7 linked regions of the Homo sapiens genome follow. The protein of the gene in region 7 interacts with the protein of the main gene of each other region in a pairwise test. Each region holds a gene or a part of one and is shown on either strand. Other genes may lie near its edges. The genes, in order: TRIM73, ATRIP, ZNF76, CCNG2, FXR1, CCDC33 and TASOR2.

What was found.
Region 1: the proteins of TASOR2 (region 7) and TRIM73 interact in a two-hybrid assay, tested with the Homo sapiens proteins (one large-scale study listed by BioGRID).
Region 2: the proteins of TASOR2 (region 7) and ATRIP interact in binary tests that used the Homo sapiens proteins (3 or more experiments, as listed by UniProt).
Region 3: the proteins of TASOR2 (region 7) and ZNF76 interact in binary tests that used the Homo sapiens proteins (3 or more experiments, as listed by UniProt).
Region 4: the proteins of TASOR2 (region 7) and CCNG2 interact in a two-hybrid assay, tested with the Homo sapiens proteins (one large-scale study listed by BioGRID).
Region 5: the proteins of TASOR2 (region 7) and FXR1 interact in a two-hybrid assay, tested with the Homo sapiens proteins (one large-scale study listed by BioGRID and IntAct).
Region 6: the proteins of TASOR2 (region 7) and CCDC33 interact in a two-hybrid assay, tested with the Homo sapiens proteins (one large-scale study listed by BioGRID).

The regions. Positions count from the first base shown.
Region 1 is NC_000007.14:75,394,284-75,398,428, forward strand, and holds the start of TRIM73 (tripartite motif-containing protein 73), read left to right. Parts: upstream 1-1,345; 5' UTR 1,346-1,527; intron 1,528-4,145.
Region 2 is NC_000003.12:48,453,237-48,456,736, forward strand, and holds part of ATRIP (ATR-interacting protein), read left to right. Parts: intron 1-1,063; coding exon 1,064-1,182; intron 1,183-3,500. UniProt on the Homo sapiens protein: Required for checkpoint signaling after DNA damage. Required for ATR expression, possibly by stabilizing the protein.
Region 3 is NC_000006.12:35,287,235-35,290,734, reverse strand, and holds part of ZNF76 (zinc finger protein 76), read right to left. Parts: intron 3,113-3,500; coding exon of another isoform or gene 3,090-3,112; coding exon 2,890-3,089; intron 483-2,889; coding exon of another isoform or gene 470-482; coding exon 353-469; intron 95-352; coding exon 19-94; intron 1-18. UniProt on the Homo sapiens protein: May be involved in transcriptional regulation.
Region 4 is NC_000004.12:77,160,207-77,163,706, reverse strand, and holds part of CCNG2 (cyclin-G2), read right to left. Parts: intron 2,987-3,500; coding exon 2,736-2,986; intron 2,228-2,735; coding exon 2,149-2,227; intron 2,059-2,148; coding exon 1,960-2,058; intron 1-1,959. UniProt on the Homo sapiens protein: May play a role in growth regulation and in negative regulation of cell cycle progression.
Region 5 is NC_000003.12:180,964,670-180,968,169, forward strand, and holds part of FXR1 (RNA-binding protein FXR1), read left to right. Parts: intron 1-3,381; coding exon 3,382-3,500. UniProt on the Homo sapiens protein: mRNA-binding protein that acts as a regulator of mRNAs translation and/or stability, and which is required for various processes, such as neurogenesis, muscle development and spermatogenesis.
Region 6 is NC_000015.10:74,242,826-74,246,325, forward strand, and holds part of CCDC33 (coiled-coil domain-containing protein 33), read left to right. Parts: intron 1-1,159; coding exon 1,160-1,323; intron 1,324-3,500.
Region 7 is NC_000010.11:5,757,838-5,761,038, forward strand, and holds part of TASOR2 (protein TASOR 2), read left to right. Parts: intron 1-1,049; coding exon 1,050-1,155; intron 1,156-3,201.

The sequences.
Region 1 (4,145 bases), on a different chromosome or scaffold from region 7:
AGCCGAGGAGTTTTCCTAAAGTAATTAGAATCGAAGGGTCTGTCCAAGTGTTCCAGGTATCCATAGTATTTCACTAGAATAGAGGAAAGAATGTAAGGAAAATGGACCCAAAACACCCACGCCACCATAATATCGAGTCTCTCATGATCACACAGAAACAATGCGATCAGATGAGCTTAAGCTGCCCGACACCACGAGGTACAGGAATAAATCTCTCTGCATTTTAGGAGCCTACCCTTCGGCTCAGAGGTTCAAGAGCTTCATGGAAGCATCACGCAAAGGGGACATAGGGTTCCTTAGCTTTCCTCTTAAAAAAACTAATTCATGGCAGAAGCAGCGGCTCACGCTTGTAATCCCAGCTACTGGGGAGGCTGAGGTGGGAGGATCACTTGGGACCAGGAGTCTGAGACCAGCCTGGGCAACATAGAAAGTGCCCCATCTCTACAAAAATATTAAAAATTAGCCGGGCATGGTGGATTGCGCCTGTAAATCTCTTATTTGGGAGGCTGAGGCTGGAGAATCACTTGAGCCCAGGAAGCAGAGGCTGCAGTGAGCTATGTTCGCACCACTGCACTCCAGCCTGGGGAACTGAGCGAGACCCCGTTTCAAAAACAAAAATCCACTTCAAACAAAGCATTTCCAACCCCATTAAATGCTTTTTGAAAATGAGGCCTCTCTCTTCCCAACAGAGTGCGATGACATGGATCCTGCGGACAAACCGCCCCAGGGCGTACCTAGCACCGAAGCATCAGGCGCCACTAGGTCTCCAGCTCCTTCTCGGATGACGTCCTTCAGCACGCCCCGGTCCCCCGAGATGTCCAGCATCCTCTGACTTAACCGCTCGTACAGGGACTGATGGAGAATGAAAGCCAGGCCTCAGAGCCGCAGACCCACCCGGCCACCCCTCAGCGTCTACGCCCCCGAAACGTCTGGGCCCTCACCTGGCCGGGGGCGTCGTCCCCTTCCAGGACTCCCTGGTTTAACGCGCTTCCCCCCATGTCCTAGCTGCCCTCCCTGTGGCGTGAGCCTTCGGCCTGGTGCGCCCCGCTGCCCTTCCTGGCTGTGACTCTGGTGGGGTTCCGAAGGCCCCTTTATGCCCGGCAGACCCCTACCGACGGCGGCATTACATTCTGGGGCCACGAGGAGGCACTCATCGTTTCGTTCCAACCGCCGCCAACGGCCCTGGCCCTCGCGAGCTCTGGAACTACAGAGGTCGCACGGTGAGTTGCCAGGTGTGGCCCGTAATCGGAGCGCACAAAACATGATGGGACACGTAACGGGACCACACAGGGCACATTGGGCACTTGCAGGGGCGCGAGGTGGCGGCACGTAATGGGAGCGCGCTGAGCATGATGGGGCATGTGCGGGAGCGCCAGGCGGGGCATGTAACCAGAGCGTGCGGGGCATGATGGGGCACGGACATGGGGGGTTAGGTGGGGCACGTAATTGGAGCTCGCGGGGCAGGATGGGGCATCTAACTGGAGCGACAGAGAGCACGATGGGGCACTTACAGGGGCCGGAGGCTGGGTACGTAATGAGAGCGAGCGGGAAATGATGGGGCACCTAACGAGCACGCAGAGCATGATGGGGCACGGGTGCGAGGTGGGGCGCACAGTGGGAGCGCGTGGGGCGTGATGGGACACATGGCGAGGCCGTCAGGGCACAGGGGAAGCACTTTTGGAACACGTGAGTGACAGGGCTGCCGCCCTTGAAGGAGCCCTCGGAGTGGCTGCGTGGTGGGGCACGTGGGGCAGGTTCAGGAAAAAGGATGCAGCATGTGATTGCAGGGCAACCTGGTGAGGACACGAGAGCCACCTGCCACCAGCAGGGTTCAGGGCTCCCAGCTGTGGGTTACTTCCACCTTCTTTCACTTTCCCTCTTCCATTGTATTCTAGAGAATTTAGGCCCAGACAAGACACTGATTGATTGATTGATTGATTGATTGACAGAGGCTCGCTCTGAGCCCAGGCTGGAGTTCAGTGATGGATCTCAGCTCACTGCAGCCGCCACCTCCTGGGCTCAAGAGATCCTCCTGCCTCGGCCTCCCAAGTAGCTGGGATTACAGACGTGCACCACCAGGCCCAGCTAATTTATTTTTTAGTTTTTAATTTGCTGGTAAGATGGTTTGTAGCTTTGTTGCCTAGGCTGGTCTTGAACTCCTGGCTTCAAGCGATCCTCCAGTCTTGACCTCCCAAAGTGCTGGGATTATAGGCGTAGGCTACAGCCAACTTTCAATACTGCCCCATTGGGGGTTACGTTTCCAACACATGAAATTAGGAGGATACATTCAAACCACAGCAGTATATTATGACCATAATATTCATTAACTGTGTAACAGGCTGGGCGCGGTGGCTCACACCTGTAATCCCAGCACTTTGGGAGACCAGAGTGGGTAGATCACTCGAGGTCAGGAGTTTGAGACCAGCCTGGCCCACATGATGAAACCGCCTCTCTACTAAAAATACAAAAAATTAGCCGGTGTGGTGGCAGGCGCCTGTAACCTCAGCTACTTGGGAGGCTGAGGCAGGAGAATCACTTGAATCCGGGAGGTGGAGGTGGCAGTGAGCCTGATTGCACCACTGCACTCCAGCCTGGGCAACAAGAGCAAAACTCTGTCTCAATAAACAAACAAACAAACAAAACCTGTATAACAGAGTGTCATTGAATTTCTAAACGTTGAAAGACTTCACATTAAAAAAAAACTCACAATTTAATATTATTGAGTGAAAGAAACCAGACACAAAAGGGTACATTCTATATGATGCTGTTTATGTGACATTCAAAAACAGGCCACATGACAACATGGTAATAAGGACAGTGGCTGTCCTTGTTAGGAGTTATGACTGGAAGGAGGCAGGAGGGAGCTTTCTGGAAACACTGTACATCTTGCTCTTGAGAGTGCACGTATATACATCAAGTGTTTATCAAGCTGTGTGGTTAAGATTTGCACACTTGTATATGTTATACCTCGATTTAAAAAATCTAAATAAGTAAATAAAGATACCTTCAAATCTTTAAAAAAAAAAAAAAAAAGAGGCCAGGTTCGGCGGCTCACACCTGTAATCCCAGCACTTTGGGAGGCTGAGGTAGGAGGATTGCTTGAGGCCAGGAGTTCAAAACCAGCCCAGGCAACAAAGTGAGACCCCTGTCTCTACTAAAGTAAATAAAACAATAAAATAAAAAAAAAAATTCGAGAGATCGAACCATCATCTGCCAGTTTGTATTAGAAAAAAAGAGAGAGAGAAGGAAGACTGCGTGCAATAAGGCTCATGCCTGTAATCCCAGCACTTTGGGAGGCCAAGGTGGGAGGATTGCTTGAGCCCAGAAGTTGAAGACCAGCCTGGGCAACAAAGCAAGACCCGGTATCTACAAAAAAAATTTTAAAAATTAGCTTGGCATGGTGGCATGTGCCTGTAGTCCCAGCTACTCAGGCAGCTAAGGTAGGAGGATGGCTTGAGCCTAGGAGTTGGAGGCTGCAGTGAGCTGTGACCACGCCACTGCACTCCAGCCTGGGCAACAGAGCAAGACACTGTCTTCCCCTGCCCCCCAGCCCCCCACCCCCCCCAAAAAAGGATATAAGAGCAAGAGATTGAGATTCAGAAAGAACTGTTTCCCAGCACCTATCTGCTCCTGTTGGGGTCATGAGGTGTGGACGGTGTACCCAGTCCCTCTGTTTCTGCCCCTCCTCCACAGTGGCCAAGGCCAGCACTTGAATGTTATCAGAGCAGGCCCAACAAAGGCTGCCTCCCCAGTCCTGTGATGTAACCCAGTTTCCACCTGATTCTGGTGACCTTGGGGACACAGGGGTGTTGCTGGGGAAGGGGAGGAGAGAAGGGGCAGAGACCAGGCAGTGGTGCAGGCGTCCAGCTGCACTTCCCACTTCTGACTCTGTGCCTGCTGTTCCCTGCTGGGAAGAAGAAAAGCCAGTGATGCTGGCTTGAGGCCATAGTGGGAGGCCCAGTGGATCCTGAGAAGCTAGGTATTCCAATGTCGGGCTCTCGCTGGGGGCTTCTGGTGCTTCTTCTGTCTCACTGACAAGCTTTCATAGGGGAGCAGGTGGGAGATCAGGGTAGAGGCCTTGTAGGTTCCAGGCTCTCTAGAATTACCTGGGAGTGTCACCTATAAGTGTAGAGTTCTGGGTCTCA
Region 2 (3,500 bases), on a different chromosome or scaffold from region 7:
AGTACCTACTACAACTTTCCCTCAGCACCTCCTCATGCTTCAATCTCAAGGACATGGGATCTTATTCTCATTGTTTCATTCAGCAAACTTAGCAAACTTTAAGCACTTACCTGTGCCCATCATTAACCGCAATAGTTAACTTTCTGTATAAGTGATGAAGAGCAAGGAATTTGCGGTCAGACAAACCTGAATTTGAATCCAGGCTTCATCACACATAAGCAGTGACCTCAAGGTAATAACTTAAGCTCCCTGGCTCATTTCCCTTATCTGTTCCAAGACATAACCAGAAAGGTTGTTGGGAGACTCACACATTCTTGCACTTACTGTGTCTGGTGCTGGGCCTGGCGCAGAGTGTGCTTGGGGAATGATGGCAGTTACTGTTGGCTGTAGCAACTGCAGGCCAGAGCAGCAGGTCTCTCTATACTGCACAGTGTCTTGGTAAACTATTCCAACTACTCTGCCCAAACTTTGAGGAAGACCTGGAATTGTGCACCAGTGCGTTCGTTAATAAAGGTCAATATGTTACTGCTGACATAGGGCACCTTACCAAGCTCTATGCTGGGTATTTTACACTCATCATTCTACTTAATCCTCCCAACTATCATGAAGACAGGTGTTTTATGTTACAAATAAGTTAGGATTCAAAGACATTAAATAAATGGTGGGCTGGTATTTAATTCTTTTTTTTATTTTTTAAATTTTTTGTAGAGGCAAGATCTTGCTATTTTGCCCAGGCTGGTCTCGAACTCCTGGGCTCAAATGATCCTCCCGCCTCAACCTCCCAAAGTGCTTAGGATTACAGGCCTGAACCACCACACCCGGCCAGGGCTGGTATTTAAACCCTCACAAACTACCCTTACAATAGAGTCCAGTATCTTTTTAGAGTACCATATTGTCTTTCAGAAAGAAAGCTAATGTTTAATATTTTAGGACATTTATGTCACAGCAGACTTTCATATGTATTTTTCATTGTTTGTCTTTTACTGGCTTGTGATTTTGAAGCCCAGAGATATTTTTGTGTATATGATGGGACCACTACAAGCATGTTTCTTTTGCCTTCCAGCTCCAATCATTGCAGTCTGAACTCCAGTTTAAAGATGCAGAGATGAATGAATTAAGGACAAAGCTCCAGACCAGTGAACGAGCAAATAAACTGGCTGCTCCCTCTGTTTCCCATGTCAGGTAATGATGGTGCTGGAGGGATAGTTCAGTTTTGCATTATTTAGTAAAAAATCTGCATAACAGTGTCAGGCTGGTCCTAAATGAAGGCCATTTAGACCCCTCCACCTGGGCAGAGATCCTCTTTTCCTGAAGGATTCAGAGGTGGTTTAGATGAAGCTTGCATGGTTTGAGACATCACAGCATAAAGGCCTATACTCTAGAAATGCTGCCTCTGTATGGCACTTTATAAACATAATTCTTCAGGACTAGAAAGACCTGGAAAAATGATCTCCAAATTTTGGGGGTGGGCTAGTCTCTACTTTTATGTAATTTGTTTAACTGATTTTGTTGCAAGCATGGGTGTATTTTAGTTCCAGCTACTTGGAATATTTTTTTCTCATTTGCTTTCTGGGGACCCTTGTCCAACAGCCCCATCCTTTGTGGTCAGATGTGCTCAACTTGTTTTTTTTTTCTTTTTTTTTTGAGACAGAGTCTCGCTCTGTCACCCAGGCTGGAGTACAGTGGTACAATCTCGGCTCACTGCAACCTCCGCCTCCTGGGTTCAAGCAATTCTCCTCCTTCAGCCTCCTGAGTAGCTGGGACTACAGGCACACACCACCACGCCCAGCTAATTTTTGTATTTTTAGTAGAGACGGAGTTTCACCATGTTGGCCAGGCTCGTCTCAAACTCCTGGACTCAAATGATTTGCCAGCCTGGGCCTCCCAAACTACTGGGATTACAAGCATGAGCCACTGTGCCTGGCGCAGCCTGGAAATTTGAACAGTGTCAGTCAGGGCATCTTCTGGTTTTGAACTTTCTACCGCCTTTGTTCATAATGGGCAGTGTGTGAAACTGAACTCTCCATGCCTTGCATTGTCCACATAAGACAAGAGAACTGAGGGGATCCTCTTCACACATCAGTAACAGAAAGACCTCAGCATTATATGATCAGATCAGAGAGTTAATACTGCTTCTCTACCATAAAGACATTGGCACTAAGTTGCTCAGTTTTCAACATACCTAGTAGGTTTATCAAAATTATGATATTTATTTTGATAGCCCTTTTTCTATTTAAAGTCTTTGCATTCTATTGGAAGTCTTTTTTTTTTGAGACAGAGTCTCACTCTGTTGTCCAGGCTGGAGTGTAGTCACATGATCTCAGCTCACTGCAACCTCCACCTCCCGGGTTCAAGTGATTCTCCTGTCTCAGCCTCCCAAGTAGCTGGGATTACAGGCACATACCACCACACCAGGCTAGTTTTTTTGTATTTTTTTTTTAAGTAGAGATGGGATTTCACCATGTTGGCCAAGCTGCTCTCGAACTCCTGACTTCAGGTGATCCACCCACCTCAGCCTCCCAAATTGTTGGGATTACAAGGGTGAGCCACTGTGCCCAGCCTGGAAGTCTTGTGACTATTAAAAAATCGTTTGTTCCACATTGGCTGGGTGCAGTGGCTCACACCTGTAATCCCAACACTTTGGGAGGATGAGGCGGGCAGATCACTTGAGGTCAGTAGTTCAAGACCAACCTGGCCAACATGATGAAACCCTGTCTCTACTGAAAATATAAAAATTAGCTGGGCATGGTGGCATGCGCCTGTAATCCCAGCTATTTGGGAGGCTGAGGCAGGAGAATCACTCAAACCTGGAGGCAGAGGTTGCAGTGAGCCAGGATCACACCACTGCACTCCAGCCTGGGCAACAGAACAAGACTCCATTCCAGAAAAAAAAATAGTTTGTTCCACATTGAAAAGATGTTTTGCACCAGGCATGGTAGCTACAGAGGCAATCCCAGCTACACAGGAGGCTAAGGCAGGAAGATTGCTTAAGGCTAGCAGTTCGAGACCAGCCTGGGCAACATAGCAAAACCCCATTGCTACTTAAAAAAAAAATAAAATTACTGGCCCCAGTGGCTCACGCCTGTAATCCCAGCATTTTGGGAAGCTGAGGTGGGCAGATCATTTGAGCCCACGAGTTCAGGACTAGCCTAGGCAACATGGTGAAACTCTATCTCTAGAAATAACTCTATCTCTAGAAAGAATAAAAAGTTAGCCAGATGTGGTGGTTGCACATCTGTAGTCCCTGTGCTACTCAGAAGGATGAGGTGGGAAGATCACTAAGCCCAAGAGGTGGAGGCTGCAGTGAGCCGTAATTGTGCCACTGGGCTCCAGCATGGGCAACAGAGTGAGACCCTGTCTCACCAAAAAAAAAAAAAAAAAATTAGCTGGCCATGTTGATGTGTGCCTGTAATCCCAGCTACTCAGGAGGCTGGGATTACAGATGGGTGGATTGCTTGAGCCCAGGAGGTCAAGGCTGCAGTGAGCTATGATCATGCTAC
Region 3 (3,500 bases), on a different chromosome or scaffold from region 7:
GCCCACCAGGCAGGTTACCTGTGGCAAAGGCCTTTCCACAGCTGGGGAAGTCACATCTGTATGGACGGTCACCTGTATGAGCTCGTTCATGCACCTGTGAGGACAAGCAATCACATAATTCAGAGGAGCAAGGGTATGACCAGGGCTCTTTGGTTTTCTTTAGGACCCTGATTCTCTTCCCTCCTGTACCATTCATGTGTGTCAAGCGCTCTGTGCTGGCATTCCTGTGTACCCTCATTTCTTCCCTCCAGCAACGTGAGGGCAGGGACCAATTCCAATCAAAGCAGAAAGGTAGAATTACAGCCTGGGAGGGAAGACTGCAGAGCTGACGGCTGTCTGCCAGCAACCTTACCTTTAAGTGATGAGCGGTGGTGTAGAGACGCCCACAGCCCTTGTAGCCACAGCGGAATGCTCTGTCTCCAACTTGCTGCCCTTTTCCATTACGGGGAATCTGGCTGTCATGAAGAACCTGGGGGAAAAGTCTTGAGATCCCTATATGTATTCTCCCCAGTGAAGAAGGTGGGACACAGGGCCCTGCTGGCAGCTTAAGACCCAACAGGCAGGGTTAAACCTGTCAGGGGCCTCTGGGGCAGAAGAACATAACTAGACGGACAAGGAACAGATGCTGGGGCATGCTACAGAAGAAACAGGGTGGGCATGGGGAGTCACCACCCATCTCTGATGGGATAAAGGGAGACCTACAGGTCATAGTGGCTGTGACGGCTATTGAAGAAAGGCTATCACATAGACAGCTAGGTAAGGTGAAAAGGGAGGTTGTCTGAATGGCCATGCTTGAACTGGACCAAGTGCCAGAAACCCTCCTTCTAAGCACACACACCTAGGAGCCTGCAACTCTCAAGACCTCCATCTTCTGATGGGAGGGGTCCCCTTCCTCCTGGCACGAAACTAGTGCTTAAAAGTACATAAACAAGGGGGCTTGCTGTGGAGATGAGCTCACCTAGGTTCATCTGATAGGACTTGGGGCCCAGAGTGAGGTGGCCACGACCAGAAGCACCCAGGGGAGTGCTGCAGTTTCCACCAGAAATGTCAGCTCTAATGACAGCACCCAGCTGACAAGTCCTCCCCTTTTGTCTCCTCTTCTGGGATATTGCTAAAGCCACCCATCTCACACCAGCCTCTGGATGCAGGGAGCCCTTATTGCTCTTCTGCTTTCCTGGGCAGGGTCCTGGTGGGACTATCCCTTAGTCTTTCTTTCTAGAATGCTTCAGAATCACACTCTGGTCTTTCCAGGAGCTCCTGAAACTGAACTCTACAAGTTACAGTGAGCAGGGGACAGAGGGGTGAGGCCAAATTCATGGCAAGGTCTGTCTAGTTAGGCTCCAGCTCAGAGGCTCAAGCAGCTGAGAGCTTCACGGACACTTAAACAGCTTCTGGGTAGAGGGTAGGGTCAGAGGTGGCCTGACCTGCTTGGCGGGCTAACCCACACAGGCACTTGGATTTCATTCCATGTCTCACTAGCTCCTGGGGTAATCACGGGAATCAAGGGACATCAGGGATGGAAGTGACCTCTGAGATCATCTGGTCCCATCTCATCATATTAGGAATAAGCTGAGGTCGAGGAGAGGAGGGACTCACCCAAGTTTGGACTAGGTAGAGGTAGAGCAAGCATAGATCTCAGGGCTCATGATTTAAATAAAACCCACTTCTCTTTACATCAACATCGAGTCTCAAATTTGGTCTCTAAGATATACCTCAGGGAACCTGGGTGGGAGTGAATGTAGCCTACTGTAAAGTTTTGTGACTTTTTTTTTTTTTTTTTTTTTTAGATAGGATCTCCCTCTGTTGCCCAGGCTGGAGTGCAGTGGGACAATCTCAGCTCATTGCAGTCACCGCCTCCTGATCCTCCCACCTCCGCTTCCCAGTAGCTGGGACCACAGGTGCGCACCACCATGCCCAGCTAATTTGTTTTTGTATTTTTGTGTAGAGATGAGGTTTCGCCATGTTGCCCAGACTGGTCTCAAACTCCTGGACTCAAGCGATCCACCTGCCTCAGCCTCCCAAAGTGCTGGGATTACAGGCGTGAGCCTCTGCTCCCGGCCTGTGCTTCATTTTGAAAAGACATGAGGACTTCCTTTTTTCCTCCATCATTCAGTCACACTGGTTTCATTATAAATAAAAAACCTCCCCCATCTTCGGGTAAAACTGCTGGAAGGAAGGAACGTGCAGGAAGCCCTGGCACATCCAGCCTGAGGCTCTGTAGTCATTCCAGGAAGGGAACACCCTGGTTTGGAAAGCTCAGAGATGTCTGTACCCTTTTCCCCACATGCAGGACCATGGTTTCGGCAGAAAGAACTTGGACTGACTGGTATTTGCAGAGCCAGGACCCTTTTCCTTTCCAGCTGAGCTACTGTGTGGGCCTCATAATCCAGGAATCCCAGCTGTTCTGTTGCACATGCCCTTGTCATAGCCCACTGAGGTTAATTTTCCAAATGACTGAGTCACAGAGAAGAAATAAATACAATTACCTCAGTGGACTAGAAAGCTAATACAAGTCACTGGCAGGGCTTTCCCAGCTAGTGCAGAGGATTACTACAGCAGCCAAAGTGAAGCTGGGCCTAACTCCTCAGCATAAGGATGCCACTGTTTCTTATGGCAGCTTTCCCTCTGCAAAGACAGCGTAAACAAAAGTGAGCGTAAACAGCTGTCAGCGGCCAGGCCAGGCTGTGTTGCATGCCCTAGACAATGATGTGTGACAGGTGAGTTGGGGGAGCTGGGGTGGAGGGGCAAAGGGAATATCCCACATGGTGCCCAAGCACAGGGCTGCCCTTGTCCTCTTGAGAGGTGAAGTTCTGGCAGGGCCAAGAGGCAGTGCGCAGGCCAGGCCCGGTTGTCTAGAGTGACAGACCGTGTCACGCTGTGCGTGCTCACCTTGCTGGCATACTGCTCCAGGGCCACCACTGCGTCTGCACTGAAGCCCTCATCATCCTCTGCTGCCAGGTCCTCCAAGCCCACCTCTGTCTGTACGGCCAGGATGGTGCTCTCCGATGGCACAGCCACAGGGTGGTGAATGTAGGCAGTGGAGCCATCTTCCAGTTGGACGGCTTCCAGGGTGCTGGGGTCATAGCCTTCTGCAGGGAACACGCGGTTAGCCCTGATGCCACACAAGGGGAAGAGATACAGCTGGGACCCTAGCTTTAAGTTAATGAGAGATACATATACCAAGGAGGGTTTCAACATCCAATTTCTCATGGCCCTTCACTTTGTGATTCACTCTTGCTGGCCCTCCTTCTGCAGCTGTCTCACCTAAGGATGAGGTCTCCTATGGTACACTAAATGGGAACTCACAAGCTCCTTGAGGACCTGACAGGGGCCCATCATCATTTTGGCTTAGATGACCACAATAGCCTCCTGACCAGTCGCTCCTCACCCCCTCTAGTTCCCTCCAGGCAGCACAACATCCAGAGGGATCTTTGCGGGACACAAATGTGACCATGTCACTTAACTGCCTCAACAGTTTAAATGCTTCCCACTGGTCTCAG
Region 4 (3,500 bases), on a different chromosome or scaffold from region 7:
TTTCTTTTTTGTTTTTCTTTTTACGTATTTTTTTCCCTCCTCCTTCGGAATGCCTTCAGTTTATTTCAACGAATCAATTTTCACTGAAGATGGTTCCAGCTATCACTATCAATAAAAAGTTCAGATAAAAACTAATAAAATCATAACTAAAGCAAAAAGTTATCTGTTACAAACAAAATGCTTCACATGCACATATTTTCACCAGAAAACAGAAGATCTATTTTCTTGGCTTCCCATTTTCACCTAATGTAGCTACATCCTAACCCACTTGTAATCTGGTTTCTACCACTTCCTTCTCACTGCTCTACTGACATTACCTCTGACACACCCAATGACCTTCAATTTTCATTATATTGGATCTCTTATAAAAATTCAATACTCCTGACCACCTCCTTAAAAACCTCCTTCCAGTCTGACAGTGCTTCTACTTGTGGGGATGTACCTTTCTTCACTTGGCTCCTAATGTTGGGGGGAAAGGCCAACGCTGAAAACCCCAGAGCTTCAACTGACCCCTACAAAAAGGATTCCACAGCTTCTTACCGTTTCAACTACTGCTTCTTCATGAGAAATTCCAAACCTCAATCTCTAACTATAGTTTATCTTCTTATTCCAAAACGCCAAACACCTACTAGACACCCACCTGTGTACACAAGCATCTAAAATCATATTGCTCTCATCACAAATTAACTTCTCCCAAATTTCCTGCCAATTATGCTAATATTATATCCACCATTAGGTACAAATCTTGGTCATTCAAGACTCCTTGCCTCATTTCCATGCTTGGCTTCCAAAACCACTGTTTGAGTTGGACAGCCTTACTCCTGCTTGTGACTACCACCTAGACATTGTACCTGTAAGTCTACCCTAAAATGACTTTTATATCTGTCTAGTCCACCAATTTCTTGGCCGTTAAGCCTTCGCTGAAACTTTCACTGTCAAAGATTCTTTTGCTCCAAACAGGCTCCCAGTCATAGTGTTTCTCCTAGTCTGCCCTATTTCTTTGCTTAAAAAAAACCCAAAGTAAGCCGGGCACAGTGGCTCACGCCTGTAATCCCAGCACTTTGGGAGGCCAAGGCAGGTGGGATCACTTGAAGTCAGGAGTTCAAGACCGGCCTGGCCAACATGGCGAAACCCCATCTCTACCAAAAATATAAAAATTAGCCTGGCATGGTGGTGAGCACCTGTAGCCCCAGCTACTCGGGAGGTTGACGCAGGAGAATCACTTGAACCCGAGAGGCTGAGGTTGCGGTGAGCCAAGATCATGCCACTGCACTCTAGCTTGGGCAACAGAGCAAGACTGTCTCAAAAAAAAAAAAAAAAAAAAAAAAAATCCCAAAGTACTCTCTATATTCACTATTACCTGGCACCAAGACACAATAACAAATGACAGAACACACCACTTCATGTTAAGTTCCTCATTTCCCCAACTAGACTGAGAGTTTAAGAAAAAGTATTGTGCTTTTGTTTTATATCTCTTTGTGATGGTAAGACTTACTTTTACTTAGCTGGCCTAAAGGATTTGAAAAGACATTCGGGTTTAAAACATCAACATTGCTGGTGTTAATTGATGCTGCTGCTAATGGGATGACAGTTCAGTCCTACAGGTGTGATGGGATCCCATCCTATCCCATTAGTGTTTGTTCTGAGTCTACTACCTAGTATGCATTTCAGAACAATGCATATGTGGCAATGTAACAGCTGTACTATCATATGGCATGATTACTACAGAAGGGGCACCTATATGCAGAAAGAAGCTGAGCTAAGTGACCAGGTTCCCTTCCGGATTAATACTGTCTGGGTCAAAGCTGCATTTTGAGAACTTTAACACTAGAGATATAAGAAAAAAAACAAGTGTAAAAGTTAAGAGTCCCATAAAGTATTACTTAATGTTTAAGTCACCACAGAAAAAAATAAACATCAGGAAAAAAATTTGCCTTAAAGAATAATGACTGTAATTACCTTGGAATGTTTTTTAACTAGCAAGAGAATTTCCAGTAATTCAACAGATTTCAAAGTTTCCACTTCCAAATTGAGAAGGCACAAGGCTAATACAGATGGCTGTAAGAAAAAAGAAAAAAAAGAAAAATATTTTTTAAAAATTCAAAATACAAACTGTGAGATATATACATAAGCAAGGAATCGACTTACTTTTGCTTTTGAAAAGATGAGTCGGCAGTTGCAAGCTTTCAGCTGAGCTTCTAGTTTATCAAGGCTCAGTATTTCTTTCCTATACAATGCAAAGAACAAAGATTTATTAAACTTCCAAAGATTTAAATGATTTTAAATGATTTTAAATATTTGCCAGGGCCAGACGCGGTGTCTCACGCCTGTAATCCCACCACTTTGGAAGGCAGAAGCAGGTGGATCACCTAAGGTCAGGAGTTCGAGACCAGCCTGACCAACATGGAAAAACCCTGTCTCTACTAAAAATATAAAATTAGCCAGGTGTGGTGGCGCACGCCTGTAATCCCAGCTACTTGGGAGGCTGACGCAGGAGAATCGCTTGAACCCGGGAAGTGGAGGTTGCAGTGAGCCGAGATCACGCCATTGCACTCCAGCCTGGGCAACAAGAGCGAAATTCCTTCTCCAAAAAAAAAAAAAAAAAAAGATTTACCAATAAAGTCAAAGTTGAAAGTTTGAAGAAGGTAAAAATATAAATTTCATTGCCATTCCAATTATTTACTGTTAGCTATAGCAATGTTCAAAGTACAAAATGTATCTTTAATCCCACTGACCTTTCTGAAGTATGACAAAGTATAATAGTATGGTATAAGTGCAAAAAGTTTAAGGCAGTAGTAGCTTCCAATTCATAGTGCAATTTTTCTGAAATTATTTTTTCCATCCGTTTTATGTCAGAAGCAGTACATTTACACTGACTAATCCGGATCACATCATGAGTGGATGGAATATTGCAGTCTTCTTCAACTATTCTAGCAGCCAGCAAAAAAGAACAGACTCCAATGCAAGACAAATGTTTAGGTTTCACCTGAGAAAAAAACAAGAGGCTTCTTTTAACAACTGTCACTTTGACTTAGCAGATACTTAGAATATTGTAATGATGCTCCTATTCTTAAGACAGAACACAATCAAGTTGTTTCTCTTATATGTACTGGCTCTTTACCCACAATTATACACATTTTCACATTTTAGACGTTCTCGACCTCCCCCCCCCCCCAAAAAAAAAGGCAGCAGGGAACAGTGGCTCATGCCTGTAATCCCAGGACTTTGGGAGGCTGAGGTGGGAGGACTGCTTGAGGCCAGGAGTTTGAGAACACTCTGGCCAACATAGCAAGACTATTCTGGCCAACACAGCAAGCCTCCATCTCTATTTAAAAAAAAAAAAAAAAGTTTTTTGAACCTTTAAATTATGTAAATTCAAATGCAGGTACAAAAATTTCCATGCAGGTTCAAAAGCTAGATTCCTAGCACTAAAGTATAATTTGTATTTCAGACTTATGAAATTCATAATATAATCTCTCCCAAAATAAATTAAGCTTTTT
Region 5 (3,500 bases), on a different chromosome or scaffold from region 7:
GATTTATATATATATATATATATATATATATAATGAGTACTGTAGTTTTATCAGTTTAATAGGAACTATAAGAAACATTTCCCAGTATAACATCTCTGAAGTTGGTATGTGTGTTAAATTGGACATCTTACAACTTTAGCAGCATTTTCTTTTTTAATGGCACATAAAATAATGTCTTAAAATTGATGGCCTCTTGGAGTCGATAAAACGTGATTATTTTTAGCTGTTAAGCTTAGCACAACCAACCATTGAAAAATGATATAAACCATCTTCATAAGGTGATTTTAGAAGTTTGAGGGGAAAATATGATTTTAAAATTGGTTAAAAACACGATGTCATTATGTTTTGTTACTTTTTTTTTTTTGAGACGGAGTTTCGCTCTTGTTGCCCAGGCTGGAGTGCAGTGGCACAATCTCGGCTCACCGCAACCTCTCCCTCCTGGGTTCAAGTGATTCTCCTGCCTCAGCTTCCTGAGTAGCTGGGATTACAGGCATGCACCACCATGCCTGACTAATTTTGTATTTTTAGTAGAGACAGGGTTTCTCCATGTTGGTCAGGCTCGTCTCAAACTCCAGACCTCAGGTGATCTGTCTACCTCGCCTCCCAAAGTGCTGGGATTACAGGCGTGAGCCACCAGCCTGGCCTAGTGTCATTACTTTTAAAGCTTGTTTAAAAAAACGACTTTGAATCACCAACCTGTGTTTTACAAAATTGAGAGGCTGGAATAAATGGTTTCCCTGATTTTATTAGAGTATTTGTTTTCTATTGCAGTAATAAATTATCACAAACTTAGAGGCTTGACCACAGAAATTTATTATCTTATAGTTCTGTTGGTCAGAAGGCTGACATGGGTCTCACTAGGCTAAAATCTTGTCAGCTGGGCTACGTTTCTTTCTGGAAAGTCTAGCGGGGATTCCCCTTTCAGTAGTTTAGAAAATTTCTCTACTTTTAAAGACCCAGTGAGATTAGTTTGGACCCACCTGGATAATCCAGGATAATCTCTCTATCTCAAGGTCCTTAACCTTAGTCACATTTGCAGAGTCCTTTTTGCTATCACAGAAACATTTAATATGTGTTATTAACAGTTATTTAATATGAGTAATGTTGAGCACTAGCCAATACATTAAAATTTTGGGGGGTACGGCCTCAATATCTGTTTTACCTGCTGAAATCTATGATTTAGACATTCCCTCTAAGTCTCTTGAATACTATATGTAGGTTAAATTTAAGGAAGACTTTACTTGCTGTGACACGGGGTTAGATAAATACTACACTGGATTTCTAAGGATACTTCAATATGAACTTTTGAGAGAGTCTTCAGAATGAAGTATTCTTCATTTGCCCTGAATTTTGGTAATGTTTTCAGGTAGGGTATAGGTTTGTAAATAAATTCAGAAGTTCTTAAACATTCTGAAAGGCTTTTTTTTTCACTATTCAAGGAAAGATAAATTGCCTTCATTACAACTTTTATGACATCCTGTTAATAAAGTACTTTTTGTCATTTGGTGAAATAAATGTTAGGGGAAATTAATTCCCTTCCCTGAGATTCTAATCCCAACAAAGAATTGAAAGTGAGTAATAGAAATTTGATGTATTCTTTGAAAAATACACATCCAACTAATTACCTAATTGTTTTTATAATTGACTAGTTACATCTATTAACACCATGTAGAGAAAAGGTAGGCATCCTAGAGTTATCGTTAAAGGAGAAAGGAAGTGAGGCACCTTCATGTATAAAACTTTACATTTTATTCCCTGCACCTTAATACTTAAAACTTCTTATGTCTGAAGAGCTCTTGTTTGCATTTTTCCTCAAATGATTGCAGAGTTTAAATATAGGGAACTTCAAGGTATTTCATGAAATCACTCTTATCTGAGAGTTTAGCAAATGAACTTCAAAATAATGCAGCAAATTATTTGGTTGAGAAAATTGTTATACACTCTGCCAGGCATTTGAGGACATATAAGATGGAGTTCCACCCTTTATCATAGACCAATTTTGAAGTAATTCCACAGGGGGAAAAAATAACAACATGGCACAGTCTGTGATAGATGTGGGGCGATTTTAGGATAACAAAAAATGGGGAGAGATCTGTCTTAGTTGCAGTGGTCTGAAGTTAGAATTTGAACTAGGCCCTGAAGGAGATATATTTGGTCATATAAGAGGGAAAGAAGAAGTGGCATCCCAGAACTAACAAGTGGAAATGAATATGATAGTGATTGAGTCATATGTATCTGACATTTGAGTTACAGTAATTATTAAATAATGATAATGTAGGCCTCTGATTATATCTTTGTGGTGTTTAAATAAATTTTTGAAAGGTCACCATTACAATAGTTGCAGTGTTAGAAATGGTCTGTAAACTTTTAAAGGCAATGCTGAATATTTGTCTCACTGGTCATGGCTTCAGTTCTGTTGTCAGGTGAGAGACCTTCTGTTTCAGAGAAACCTTAAATTCTGTTTAGTAATTGCAAATATTAGGTTGGTGCAAAAGTAATTGCAGTTTTTGCCATTAAAAGTAAGAAAAGCAAAAAGTAAAAGTAGTTACTTTTAATGGCAAAAACCGCAATTTAAGATGCTAGTAAAACATGCCATCATTTTATATACAACCTACTGGAAAAATTACTTCTAGCTTATAATAAAGATGCCATCAATTATAAGAAATATCTTGATTTCAGAGATGTTAACATGTGAAAAGTATACCCTAGAATCAATGAAATTATGGTGAAATACACTATACAGTTAAACTATTCAGTTTTCTAAATATGATTAATTTACTCAAATATTGAAGTTATTTTTATTGTACTAATAATTTAGGTTACTAAAACCCAAATCAGCAGAAACATTTGACTATCCATACTAAGTACATTCTAATATTGATAAATGATGTTCTGTATGGTTTTTTTTTTTTGGTGCCAAAACCTAGGAATTAATGTTCTGTATATTTTCTGTAATTTTTCTGTTGACTGCATTTCTGCACATCAGTTTTTTTTTTAACTTCCATGACTTTGTATTTCCTGGATATTATCCCCTTTTGCTGATGAGATGGTCACACCTTTGACTATATTACATGACATAGCACATCTTAGCAGACTGCAGTGAGGGATTCTTCTGCTGGTTTTGAAGAAGTGAGCGGCCTTCTGCACATCAGTTTATTTTTTAATCTGTATTAACTAGTAGATACTATACTAGTATATTAATAGTATAATAATTGATTATTCCTTAGTACGTTTCAGATTGATTTTAACTTTCATGGATCTTTCTTTGAAGCAGCCAAACAGTATTGCTTATTTAAACAATAATTTGTAGGACATAATTTTGAACATTTTAAAAGGCTTTTTATAGAAATCTAAGTGGTTTATGTTCTTTTCTTTTCCAAGGTACAAATTCTGAGCTGTCTAACCCCTCTGAAACGGAATCTGAGCGTAAAGACGAGCTGAGTGATTGGTCATTGGCAGGAGAAGATGATCGAGACAGCCGACATCAGCGTGACAGCAGG
Region 6 (3,500 bases), on a different chromosome or scaffold from region 7:
TGAGTCCCCACTGCCTCCCCAGTCAAACTGAGCCACCTCTGGGCCTTGGAAAGCTCTGCCCCTTCCCGCTTGCTGCCTTCGCTCCAGTGTTCTGCTCCTGGCCTGTCCTCCCTGACTCCACTCCTGCACCTTCTCCCAACCCTTTAAGGCCTCCTCCTCCCTGCTGTCTTCCCTGACCGCCTCAGCCGGCCAGGGCTTTGTCTTCTCTCAGCAGCTCTCGTTAAGATGGTCCTTTGGGCCATGAATCCACAAGTTACTAAGCTGCTGAGTCCCTGCTTGGGGCAACTGGTGTAGGAAGCCCCCTGCATGGGCAGGCACCTCTTCCTCCCTAGTCCGCAAGTTTCCTGGGTAGAAGACAGGTGGGGCATCTGGGACAGACACATGCATTCACCTCCACGTAATGCACTGAATGCCCCCATGAACGTGGAGAAGCTTTGTCAGCTGTAAAGTGCTGTGCACAGGAGGGACCTGAGGTGATGGGTGAGCTGAGGTGAGGTTACAAGATAGACTGAAGAAGGTGGCCCATTGTTAGGACTGCAAAAGCAGGTGGGATTTAGGAATTACAGACGAGGACACCTGCGAAAGCTAAGGCTTAGAAGTGGGACCAGACTTGAAAGGTGAGGTGGCCTGTCTCATCCTGCAGGAAGGGTAGGATCCAGGACTAGAGGAGAGGCACTGAGAGAGACGTGGGATGGGGACAGAAGTAGGGAGAAAATGGGGCCAAGGCGACTGCCTTGCAGAGTGGGCGGAAGGGTGACAGAGGGAGGCAGGCACTTGACGGAAGCTGTGAGTGGCTAGTGCTAGAGGGTGGCAGTGAAGGGAGGTGCCGCAGCAGAGGAGGCCACTCAGGGCCAGGTGCAGTAACTCATGCCTATAATCCCAGCACTCTGGGAGGCCGAGGCAGGCAGATCACCTGAGGTCAGGAGTTTGAGACCATGGGGAAATCCCGTCTCTACTAAAAATACAAAAATTAGTTGGATGTGGTGGCACATGCCTGTAATCCCAGCTACTGTGGAGGCTGAGGCAGGAGAATTGCTTGAACCTGGGAGGTAGAGGCTGCAGTGAGCCAAGATGGCACCACTGCACTCCAGCCTGGGCAACAGAGCAAGACTCTGTCTCAAAAAAAAAAAAAAACACTCAGCCCTGGCTCTCCCCACAGAACACTGAAGACCCAGAGGAGCCCCTGATCGCCTCCCAGAGCACGGAACCTGAGATCGGTCACCTGTCTCCCTCTAAGAAGGAGACCATCATGGTCACCCTCCATGGGGCTACCAACCTGCCTGCCTGCAAGGATGGCTCCGAGCCGTGGCCCTATGTGGTGGTGTAAGTAGCTGCGTGAGAGTGGGGGCAGGGGATGGGTTGGGCTGTGAGCAGAAACCAGGGGACAGCTATTTGGAATACTAGCACCCAAAGGCCCAGGACTGGGACTGTCATACCCAGAGGGGAGGAGCTGCTGTGGGCACTACCTGGCATCTCCGCTGCTGCATGGGAAGCTGCTCACCAGGGCTGGGGAAGACAGGGTGCCAACGGATCCAGAGAGTCACCCCTCCCCACCCCACACCAGTGGGGCAGGGATTGGTCACAGCTCAGCTCCAGTGGGGCAGGTTCCTTGTATGCAAAAGTCTGGGCTGGGCTCATGGGCATGATGGTCAGATTGGGGAAGGGGAAGATTTGGGACCTGCCTCTCCTGACTTCTGGGTGCCCCACCCCACCATACCCAGCCCTGGGGTAGGGTCCTCATAACCACCCTCCCCTCCTCCCCTCCTTCTCCAGTCACTTCTATTATGGGGACTCCCCTAGTTCTGGGCCTTTAATGCACCCCACACACCCCCTCCAGCCAGCTGCTGTCAGGGTACACACTTCCCCAGCCTGGCACCAAGGCCTGCCACGCCACGTCTATGCCCACCTCACGGGTCTCACTTCTTCCAGAAAGGCGCCAAGGGGCAACACAATCTCCATCCAGCCAACCTTCGCTGGGGACACTGAATATTTGCTCAATCTTTATTATAAAGCACCCTCCAAGGAGCATGTCACCCCTAGACCTTCTATAGACAGACGGCGGGAGCCTTGGTGGCCTCCCACCAAGCCACCCTATACTTCCCCTCCCCCACCAATACTGGCACCATTCAGTTCCTGCCAAGAGTCTGTTGCCCACATTTCCTTTTGGGGAGTGCCTGCCCCAGCCCACTCACCAATGCCTGCTGAAATCCTGCCTTCAAAGCCTCCTCCTCCAGGCAGCCACCAGAGTTGAGCTCTCCCTCTTCTGGAGCTCCACAGCAGTGGTGACCCTGGTCTGAAGCACTTTATATCAACATGGTTTATGCACTCCTCTGGGGCTCCCTGAGGACGGATCTCCTCCTCCATTTCCCTCAACAATGCATCCAACATAGGCCTGAGCCCAAACTTAGGAGCCAAGGAGTGACTGAGGCCAACACCTGGTTACTATGATAAGTCCCTGCCCCCCCAGGGCCCCCACTGTGAAAGGGGGGTAGAAGCTGTGCCGAGAGCAACAGGTGAAACACTTGCCTTAAAAGCCCCATTTGTGCCAGCCCAGCTCCTCGGCCATCCCTCCCCCAACTCCATTTCCGTGGTGAGGGAAGCACAGGTGGTGGGAGCAGGCTTGGCAGGGAGGCTGGTTTCTAGCGGGGAGCTCGCCTTCTCCGCTCAGCTATTTCCATAAACCAATTATCGCCGATCATCTCGGGAGATTGAGGCCCTGACTGTCACCAATCCGGCCTGGGCGGCGGGGCGGGGAGCTGGGTGGCTGTGTGGCTCCTAGGCAGGCACCGCGACCCGCGCCATCACCCGGTTGCCATGGGAACGCGCGGCAGGAGCCTAGGCGACACGAGCCTGGGTGGGGGTTCGGAGAGCCGGGCACACCCCGAGTCCTCCTGCACCCTCCCTGTGGCTGCGGCACGTGGGGCGGGAGGGTGGGGACAGAGAACGCGGGGAGGGGGGAGGGGAAAGCACTTCGCTGCACCCTTCTCCAGCTGGGAGCAGCGCCCGGGCCAGGCTGCAGCCTGCGTCCCAGGGCTCCAGACAGGCGAAGCTGCCACCAGCTCGAGGTGGTGCTAATGAGATGCAAATGATGGGAGAAGGAAGGGCTTCTGAGAATGTGAAGGCCGAGCTGTCAGGACCTGAAGGGGGCTTTCAGTGCTCACCCCCAGCCCCAGGCAGAAACCCCAGAGGGAGGATCCAGACCCTCAGAGGCCATAGAACCTGGAAAGAATTTATATCCCTGCACATCTGATTACAAATAAACAAGTAACAAAGCACACAATAGGCATAAGAAAGTTCATGAAAGTTTTCGTTTTGTTCATGATGAATATTTCAATGCTTTTTAAAAATATGTATTTGTGAAGACTTCAATGTAAGACCTGCAACTGTAACACCCCTAGAAGAAAACACAGGGGAAAGGCTCCTTTACATTGGTCTTGGCAATTAATCTTCGGATATGACACCGGAAGTACAGGCAACAGAATCAAAAATAAGTGAGACTG
Region 7 (3,201 bases):
ATTCTCTTATAGCAATGCTTTTCACCTCTTTTAACTGATTCTTACCACCACACTTGCTTCTGAGTTCCCTCCCTCTCGGTAGTGCAGCTAAGCTCCTAGTAACACAAATTCAGGATTTTATTATATTTAGTCTCTTCACTTGCCAAGTCAGAGCAGCTCCATATTAAATTGTTTGCTTAAAGTCAACCTTCTCCATTTCTGATGTCAACACCCCTACCATCTTGATGTCACAAAAATCTAAAAAATGGCTACTAAGTCAGCTTATTTAATCATCTACTTGAAAACTCATACTTTACTTCTCTCAGGGCACTTTTATGTATAAAACCTGCCCCGGCTCTGATCACATTGGAAGTGATACCACTTCTAGATCAAAAGCAGCATGTACCTTAACCAGTGTGACTTCTACACAGAACCTGGGATTTTAAATATTTGTAGGCACACGTCTGTAATCCCAACACTTTGGGAGGCCAAGGCAGGAGGATCCCTGGAGATCAGGAGTTCAAGACCAGCCTGGGCAACATAGTGAGATCCCATCTCTACAAAAAATAAAAATACTAGCCAGCTGTGGTAGTGTGTGCCTGTAGTCCCAGCTAAGGAGACTAAGGATGGAGGATTACTTGAGCCCAGGAGGTTGAGGCTATAGTGAGCTGAGATCATGCCACCACACTCCAGCCTGGGTGACAGCCGAAACCCTGTCTCAAAAAAAAAGGATTCTGTATTTAGAAACTTCATTTCTCTACTGCATCGGGGCCTCCTGCTTCTCTTCTGTCACACAATTTGTACACAGAACTCTAGTTGCTGGTGACCACTCCACTGTGTTCGTGTCTACAGAGTTATCTCCCACCATAGTGTGAGCAGGTGGGACCAGGCTGAGGGGCTTGTGAGAGCAGGATGCTGCCCAACCACATAAGTGACAGTGATGGTGTGTACTCAACCATGGGTCTTAGTCTGTTTTTTTCTTGTTTTACAAATAATTATCACTGGGCTTGGCATGAGCCAAAAGTACCTTAAACTTGTCATCTTCTTTTGCTACATTTATTGTTTTGTAGTTCAACTGAAGGAAATTATCAAAATCCTGGAAAAACTAAATGGAAATGGAAGATGGAAGTGGTTGCTTCACTACAGGGAAAATAAAAAGCTAAAAGAAGATGAAAGGTAAGGACTTGCTGTGTGTATGGTTCCTCCTGCCCTGCTGGGGTAGCAGAGAAACGCCTCATGTTCCATGGGCTCTAGCCTAGTGCTGCAGTGGAATGGCCTTCATCAGTAAAGAGCATGAGGGCTGCTGGCTCTGTATTCAATGAAGGAAGCTATGTGCTGTGACCGTAGCCAACAGTATGAGGCATGTACTTATCTAGACTAACAGAAGTAAGGGAGTCAAACTTAGCAGTCATGAAATGTCCATATTCTATTTAAGCCCTACTACTACAAACTTTAAAAAATATATGGAACTTGTACCATTAATGCTTTTTTGGATACTTATAAGTTGCCACCACTTTAAGGAGAATGGAAAAATTAAGACCATAATCTATCCTTAATTCAGTTGTACCCTAAAAGAAGAGGCTTATAAATACGCAAACTTCACTAAGTCTAAAGCTGTAATTTATAAAAGAAAAAAATACATGTTTGATTCCTTGGCTGAAGAGAGCTGGGGCTGAGAGATTCCTCCACATTCTCACAAGCAGGACCAATTGGAAAAGCAGACCTGACAAGCCCTTGTGAAATAAGGATTTCAGGCACTGTTAGGTGCATCCATTTTCATTCAGACTTCATCCCCAGGAGCTAGATAGCAAATCCTCACTTTTATAATGCAGAACTGAAGCAGAGTAGATAACAAACATGACCAAGGTCAAACAAGTAGTAAGTTATGAAGCTGGGTTTCAATCCCAGAAAGACGAAACGACTGTTAGCTGTATGTGACCTTTGAGGAACAGAATCTCAGAAAGCTTTTCTCTTGAAGTGGAGCTAGCAAAGGAGAGAAGGAGCACAGAGGTTTCCTTGGCAGGAAAGGAGGGTGCAAAGGCTTCAGCAGGTCAAGGGTATGACCATTCACAGCGGACTTCAGTAACCAGCACTTGAGGGGAAAAACGTCAACTTCGGTAAGTAGAGAAGCACATTTAAGGTTCTGATGTACCACAGCACACCTATAAAATAAGCATAAATCAATCTAGCACTTCTAGGGCTTTGGGTAGAGAAAGTCATGTCACTTAACGACGGGGATACAGCCTGAGAAACGTCATAAGACGATTTTGTCTATGTGCAGACATAGAGTGTACTTACACAAACTGATATGGTAGAGCCTACTCCTAGATTGCAAACCTGTACATGTGACTGTACTGAATACTGTAGGCAGATTTAATGCAATGGTGGTATCTGTGTGTCTAAACACAAAAAAGGTTCAGTAAATTACAGTAGTATAATTTTATGGGACCACCATTGTATATGTGGTCCGTCATTGACTGAAACATCATTATGTGGTACATGCCCGTACTCACTGCTGTTGGCGCTGCAGTATGCTCTTCATATTATACCACTCTGGCATTATGTAACAGGCGTTATGTATTATTGAGAACTCATTAGAAAACTCTTCATATCCTTTGACCTTTTGTGGAATTTACCCAAAATTCTAGGTGGTTATCAGTCATTGCAAAACCAACCTCAGTTCCATCTCTAGGAGGGAGATATGCAGACTACAGTTAAATATTTTAAAGTTTATACAAAATAATGCCCACCCAAAACTTACACAATAGAAGCATGTAAAAAGTTTCTATTCATAGAAAGAGGGATGGCATAAAAGTTGGTATCATGTAACTATGTTCAGTATGATGTCATAAAAAATTTATACAGGAAAAAGTGAAAGGAAATTAATTCATGATGTTAAGAGTGATTATCACTAGGGTTATGGGAATGGGTGTGATTTGGGTTTTCTCCAACAAGCATGAGAATGTAAGTGATGAAAACTAGAGAGACGGGAGTCGAGCAGAGACAGAAATGCTAAAAATTTAAACATACTGAGTTAACACATTTTCCTAGTAGTGATAGAATTTTCAGGGAAGCAAGAAACCAAGAAAATTCTGGCTGCTACCTAATTTTAATGAAGTTGGCGATTATCTGCCCACAAGGTATGAGAAGTATAGATGTGCATTGCTCTACAAATATACAACGCAATAAGGCCCACTCGAAATTCATGAAAGGCTTGCCAAG